Linked DNA regions of Homo sapiens: region 2 is linked to region 1. Evidence: fine-mapped expression QTL. A gene starts in region 1. The other region holds a variant in brackets. All regions are shown on one strand. Distances are from middle to middle.

Region 1 (2,909 bases):
AAAGTGCTGGGGTTACAGGTGTGAGCCACCCATTTATTCTGTGCCACTTCAATCTACCAGTCTCTTCCCTGATAGCAAAAAGAATCGAGTCACCACCTTTAAAAGATGAAAATCCTCAACATGATTTACAATATTTTTTCCAAACTGCAGGTCATGAGCCATTAGTGGCTCATAGAAACAATTTAGTGGGTCAACACCAGCACTTTTTTAAAAAAGTGAAGTAGAACAGAAATATGAAATTGCAATGCCAATCATAAGCATAAGAATTATTTCATCAAACTTTTCTCATTATGGGCCTTCTCAAAAAGTGTTTGAAGGCCTCTGGCCTATAATAACCTGAGTAATATGACCCCTGCCTCCTCCTTTAGCCCCACTTCCCATCATCCCCCACGCGGTTCTCCGCGCTTTACCCACACTAGCCTTCCTTAAATTCCTCCAATACATCATGTTCCCTTCTGTGGGAGACCACTTAGCACATGGTTTTCCTCCTTGCCTAGTTAATGTCATCCTCCAGGTCTCAGCTCAGATGCCACTTCTTCAGGCAAACCTTCCCGGATTACATCCTGAACCCCTGTAGCTGTCAGGGTCTCACAGATCTGTGTTCAGTTTTTAGTTATCCCTTTAATAGCATGTTTCCTCGGTTAATGACAAACTTTCCCACTAGGCTGTCTTTGTGACCGCAGGAGCCCTGCTCTTGTTTACCCCTGTGGTAATCCAGTGCCTATCTCAGGCTGGCACCTAGGCATTCAGAGGGATAAATGAAGGAAAGAATTGGCCAACCTGTTGACCAATGACGTTGGCTGGCCTCCTTCCTTGCTTGGTATCGGTTTTGTTTCTAACACTTGCACCAAGAAAACCACACAGGGTTATACTGTCTGCCTAGTTTAGGAACTTCCTTTAACAGTATTTCTTTACTCTCTGAGTTTCTGGTGAGCTAAAAAAACATAACAAAAAACAAAAAACTCCATCAAAATTGTATGCGTGTGCTGGTCGTTGAGTACTTCGGTGGAGAGTGGGAGACGCATCTTCATGAAATTTCAGAGGGGAACTCTGCCCATCCACTCCGAACCAGCCGCAGCTCCACGAGCATCTCACGCCACCCCTCTGCATCACCAGGGCGGCCGTGGGGCGCGCGCGATCAGCAGGCTTCTTGGCGCCCAGTCCATGCGACTATCTCTTCCCAGCCCCGGGACTAGGCCCGCCCCACTCGGATTCTCCACTCTTGGTAGCGCGCGTCCCCCGGACTGCTGAGACCAGGCGGCGCGGAGGCAGGTGACCCGCGTCTCCAGTCCCGGGCGCAGCCCAGGGTACGTTGTCAGCATCGCGGAGCGCGGCCCTGGGCCTCTGCAGCCATCTTCAGGGAGGGAGGCGCGGCCTCCCGACGCGGACCCGCCCCCGCCGCCCGGGCCGCCCCGCCCGGCTCCGCAGAGCGCCGCGCCTAGGTTGCGACTTCCCTTCCCTACCCTGCTCGGCTGCGTAGTGCGCTCCCCGCCCAGCCTGCAGAGCTCGCGCCGCGGCAGCCCAGCCGCTCGGCCCCGCCGCGCTCGCAGAGGCCGCCATGGGCACCGCGCGCTGGCTCGCGCTGGGCAGCCTCTTCGCCCTGGCTGGGCTGCTGGAAGGCCGGCTCGTGGGCGAGGAGGAAGCCGGCTTTGGCGAATGTGACAAGTTCTTCTACGCCGGGACCCCGCCTGCGGGGCTGGCGGCCGATTCCCACGTGAAGATCTGTCAGCGCGCGGAGGGTGCTGAGCGCTTCGCCACCCTCTACAGCACCCGGGACCGCATCCCCGTGTACTCCGCGTTCCGCGCCCCGCGCCCTGCGCCCGGCGGCGCCGAGCAGCGATGGCTGGTGGAGCCGCAGGTAAGCGAAGTGGTTCCCGAGCCGGGCTGCGGGCGCCGGAGACCGTGCCGCTGGACATGCCCCCAGTTGCAGCTACCGCGAGGGGCGGGCCGGGAACAGCAATCCCTACGCCTTCGGTGCCTTGGGCCAAGAAACCCGGGTTCCAGGTCCACCCTGTTGCGTCCCCGGAGTTAGCCTGCCTCGCCCCTGTCGAGCTACAATAAGAGCCTGGCGATCTGCGAGCCTTCACTTCATGAGCTGCAGGGCGGGAGGTCCCCTGTGGGAGGAGGTTCTCCCTGCATTTCTGAGCAGACATCCGCAGTGTTTCATTCCTGAATGGTGAAGAGCTTGATACAGAGACCCTGGAGACCGTTCAGATCCGCAGAAAGCCTAGGCTGGGCGCTCACAGGCCTTCGTGCAACTTATTGCCATAGCACTCATTTGGAGGTGGGTAGGTGGGCATTTTCATCCCCATTTTACAGAAGAGGAGATAAACCCAGGGGGTGAAGAGACATATGGAAGACTACCCAGTTAGTAAGATGGGGCAGGTCTCTGTCTAGAAATTCACTGCCTTTTCTACTAAGTAAAGCTTCTCTTCTGCAGAGCTCATCCTAGCCTGAAAATCCTTCCTCTACCACGGCGTTGAGTAAATTCGATCTGCGGTTGTGTTGAATTAGAACAATGAAATAAAGATACAGATTTTTAGAAACGCAATGGGGTAGTTAAAAATGATAGGGAAACATTGACTACCTCCAACTGATGGAAAGATAAGCCAGTTTTTCCTGACTCCTCATATCTATATTATCATACCACTAGGAAATCGTGTCACCTCTCATGGTGTTCTGTCCCGTCTGGTAAAGGTGACCAAACACTTGAGAAGCCCTCAGAGTCTTCCGAACCTGCTGGCCTGCTCTTAATACCTCTCCTCAGTTGGCCTCCTCTCTAGAACACCCTGCCAGACTCCCCTTTGCCCTCTCACCAGCCTCCCACCCCTGCCCAGGCTGCTGGGGGAAGAACTGACCCAACGCTCTCCCTTTCCTGACGGCCACAGCTGCCCAGGACCACACCAGTG
Region 2 (2,909 bases), 63 kb after region 1:
TCTTTTCCTCCCCACGGCTTCTCTTTCCTCCCCGTCTCAGGCACTGGGCATTTCCAGTCGATCCAGCAGGTCTGGCTTCTCTCACATATGCAGTAAGGGTTAGGGGAGAAGGTCCCAGCTCCTCTTGTCTCTAGCAGAGTGTAAACTGGCTCTGCTGAGGAGGTGGCTGTGCTTTTATTCCTTCTCCTGAGAACTGTTTATATATTAAGGAGCTTCACAGCCTCCAACATAAGGAAAGCAGGTAGGAACTGATCATATAACGCTTTGTAAATGTTTTAGACTTTGGCTTTAATGGGAAAGAAATGGGGAGCCATTCGTGGGTTTTTGAGCAGCAGGTGGACATTGCTTTTCATAATGACCACGCCAGCTGCTGTTTGGAGAATAGACTGTAGGGGTCACTGCGCAAATTGGAGGCCGCGATCCAGGTGAGAACCAGGTGAAACAGAGCTCGGGCCATGGAGTGGCGCTGGAGGTAAGGAGAAACACTCAGACTCTGGGTATGTTTTTTGAAAGTAGGATAAAAGGCCGGGCGCGGTGGCTCACGCCTGTAATCCCAGCACTTTGGGAGGCCAAGGTGAGCGGATCAAGAGGTCAGGAGATCGAGACCATCCTGGCTAACACGGTGAAACCCCGTCTCTACTAAAAAAAAAAAAAAAAAAAAATTAGCAGGGAGTGGTGGCAGGTGCCCGTAGTCCCAGCTACTCGGGAGGCTGTGGCAGGAGAATGGTGTGAACCTGGGAGGCAGAGCTTGCAGTGAGCCGAGATGGCGCCACGGCACTCCAGCCTGGGCGACAGAGCGAGACTCTGTCTCAGTCAATCAATCAATCAATAAAAATACAAAACATTAGCTGGGTGTGATGGTGTGCACCCTTAATCCCACCTACTCGGGAGGCTGAGGCAAGAGAATAGCGTGAACCCAGGAGGCAGAGGTTTCAGTGAGCCGAGATTGCGCCATTGCACTCCAACCGGGGCGAAGATTTACATATATATAAGATTTTCTGTCTGATTGTTTTTTTGGGTATGAGAAAAAGACAGGAATCAGGGATGACTCCAAGCAGCTGGAAAAACGGAGATGCTGCTGGCTGAGATTGGAAGATGCTGGGGTAGAGGGATAAGACAGCTTAATGTTATATATTTTAGGTTTGAGGTGTTCATTAGAAAAACAAGTGGAGAGATTGATTGGGCAGACACACAGGTCTGGAGAGGGCTGGGCTGGAGATAGAAATATGGGTTGCCATGATACAGGCATGGGACTGAAAGCCCCATCAGTCCCTTGGAGAGATCATCAGAGAGTGAGTAGAGACATAGCAGGGCGAAGCCCTGAGCCCCGGTTCCCCCAGCATGTACCTGCAGTCTGTTTCCTCTTCTCAACTACAATTCCCATGGTCTTGTCTTGTTCACAGAACCTGCTCAAGGAGCATCTATTAAATGAAGGAACCCAACTTTCATCACATGTAAAATAAACATCATTATAATCCTACCTCATAAGGTTGTTGTCAGAAAAAGTTAAACGTCGTAATGAAAGTGAAACTGCGTTATGATTGGTAGATGCCTGCTATATTTTAAAATGTAGGCTTCATTATCTCATTCTGTACAGCTTGTATTACTTGATTGTATCTTCACAGTTTCTGATGCATGCAAGGCAGACACTCTCGTTCTCACTTTATTGACGAGGAAAGTAGGATTGGTGAGACAAAATAAGTCCCTGAAGCTGCATATCTAATGGTAACACCAGTGGCTGACCTGTTTGAGCACATCTGCGGCAGGCACTGTGTTAATGATTTTGCATGTGTTATCTGGCAACAACACAGCGAGGTGGGGGTTATTATCTTCACTTGCACATGAGGAAACTGAAGCA[T/C]AGAGAGGGTGGTTAACTTAGCCAAGGTCCCATAGTGAGTGGTTGGAAGAGTCTGGGCCATGAAGCAGACCTGCCCATCCTGATTCAATGTTCTTTTTGCAGCCTGATAGCTCCTCTTCTTCATCCCCCTACTAGACTCCTGCCAGGGCCAAGCCTCACCACTCCTTCCCTTGACATTGGCAACATTCCTCTCTCCTTAACGTTTCTCTCCTACCAAGCCTGCTTGCTGCAGGATACAAGAGTTCAGTCACTCCTTGGGAACAACCTGCAGGTCAAAACATTTTGGCTTATTGCTTCCCCTTTCTGGAAAGTCCTTTCCCTTCCTCTCTGCCTTATGAACTCCTATGTGTTCTTCCAAACCCTGGTGAACTCCTATGTGGTTTTCCAAGTCCAATTAATATGTCACCTCTGTTGTGAAGCTTTCCCTGCTTGCACCAGACAAGAGGCATGACTTAGATCATGTGACACTTTGTTTATAGGTCTATCAAAACAAACTGACAATTTCCTGTGGGTTTGACTGATGCCCCTGTAATATTGTGATTTTTCTCTCAGGTTCTTATATTTTCATGTCTTTTTATCCAACATGCTGTTTGCTTCGTGAATACATAAATGAATGACCCATTTACAATCACTATCAAAGCAAATTTATGGATATCAAATATTCTTCTAGAGATGAGGAAATAGGCTAAAAGGAGTGATTTGCCTAAAGTCACTCAACTGATTAAATACTGGAGCTTTGCTGGGTATGATTATGCGTGCCTATAATCCCAGCTACTCAGGAAGCTAAGGTGGGGGCAGAGGGGGTGGGTGGCAATGACCGCTTGAGCTCAACAGTTTGAAGCCAGTCTGGCTAGCATAGTGAGACTCTGCCTCAAATAAATAAACATAAATAAATAACATAAATATTGCAGCATGAACTCAAGAGAGGTGAGGAGATTTTGTCTGGTGAAACTCAAGATTTCACATGCCTATTGCTTCCCTCTCTGGCATCTAGGGTCCTGGAACCCTCCTCCAAATGCTCCTGCAGGTGGCAACAGAGGCCAAGGAAAGG

What was found.
Region 2: its variant is fine-mapped to the expression of ENDOD1 in whole blood (INTERVAL, PIP 0.95).

The regions. Positions count from the first base shown.
Region 1 is chr11:95,088,370-95,091,278 of GRCh38, forward strand. It overlaps ENDOD1 (endonuclease domain containing 1), which reads left to right and starts at 1,477. Exons shown (of 2, transcript NM_015036.3): 1 at 1,477-1,858. The coding sequence starts at 1,559. RefSeq lists enhancers at 879-1,158, 1,229-1,288 and a silencer at 1,299-1,728.
Region 2 is chr11:95,151,784-95,154,692 of GRCh38, forward strand. All of the region lies in intron 1 of LNCRNA-IUR (lncRNA imatinib upregulated), which reads left to right. Among named protein-coding and RNA genes, the nearest start is that of LNCRNA-IUR, 2.7 kb to the left of the region's middle. The variant T/C (reference allele first, on the strand shown) is at 1,859.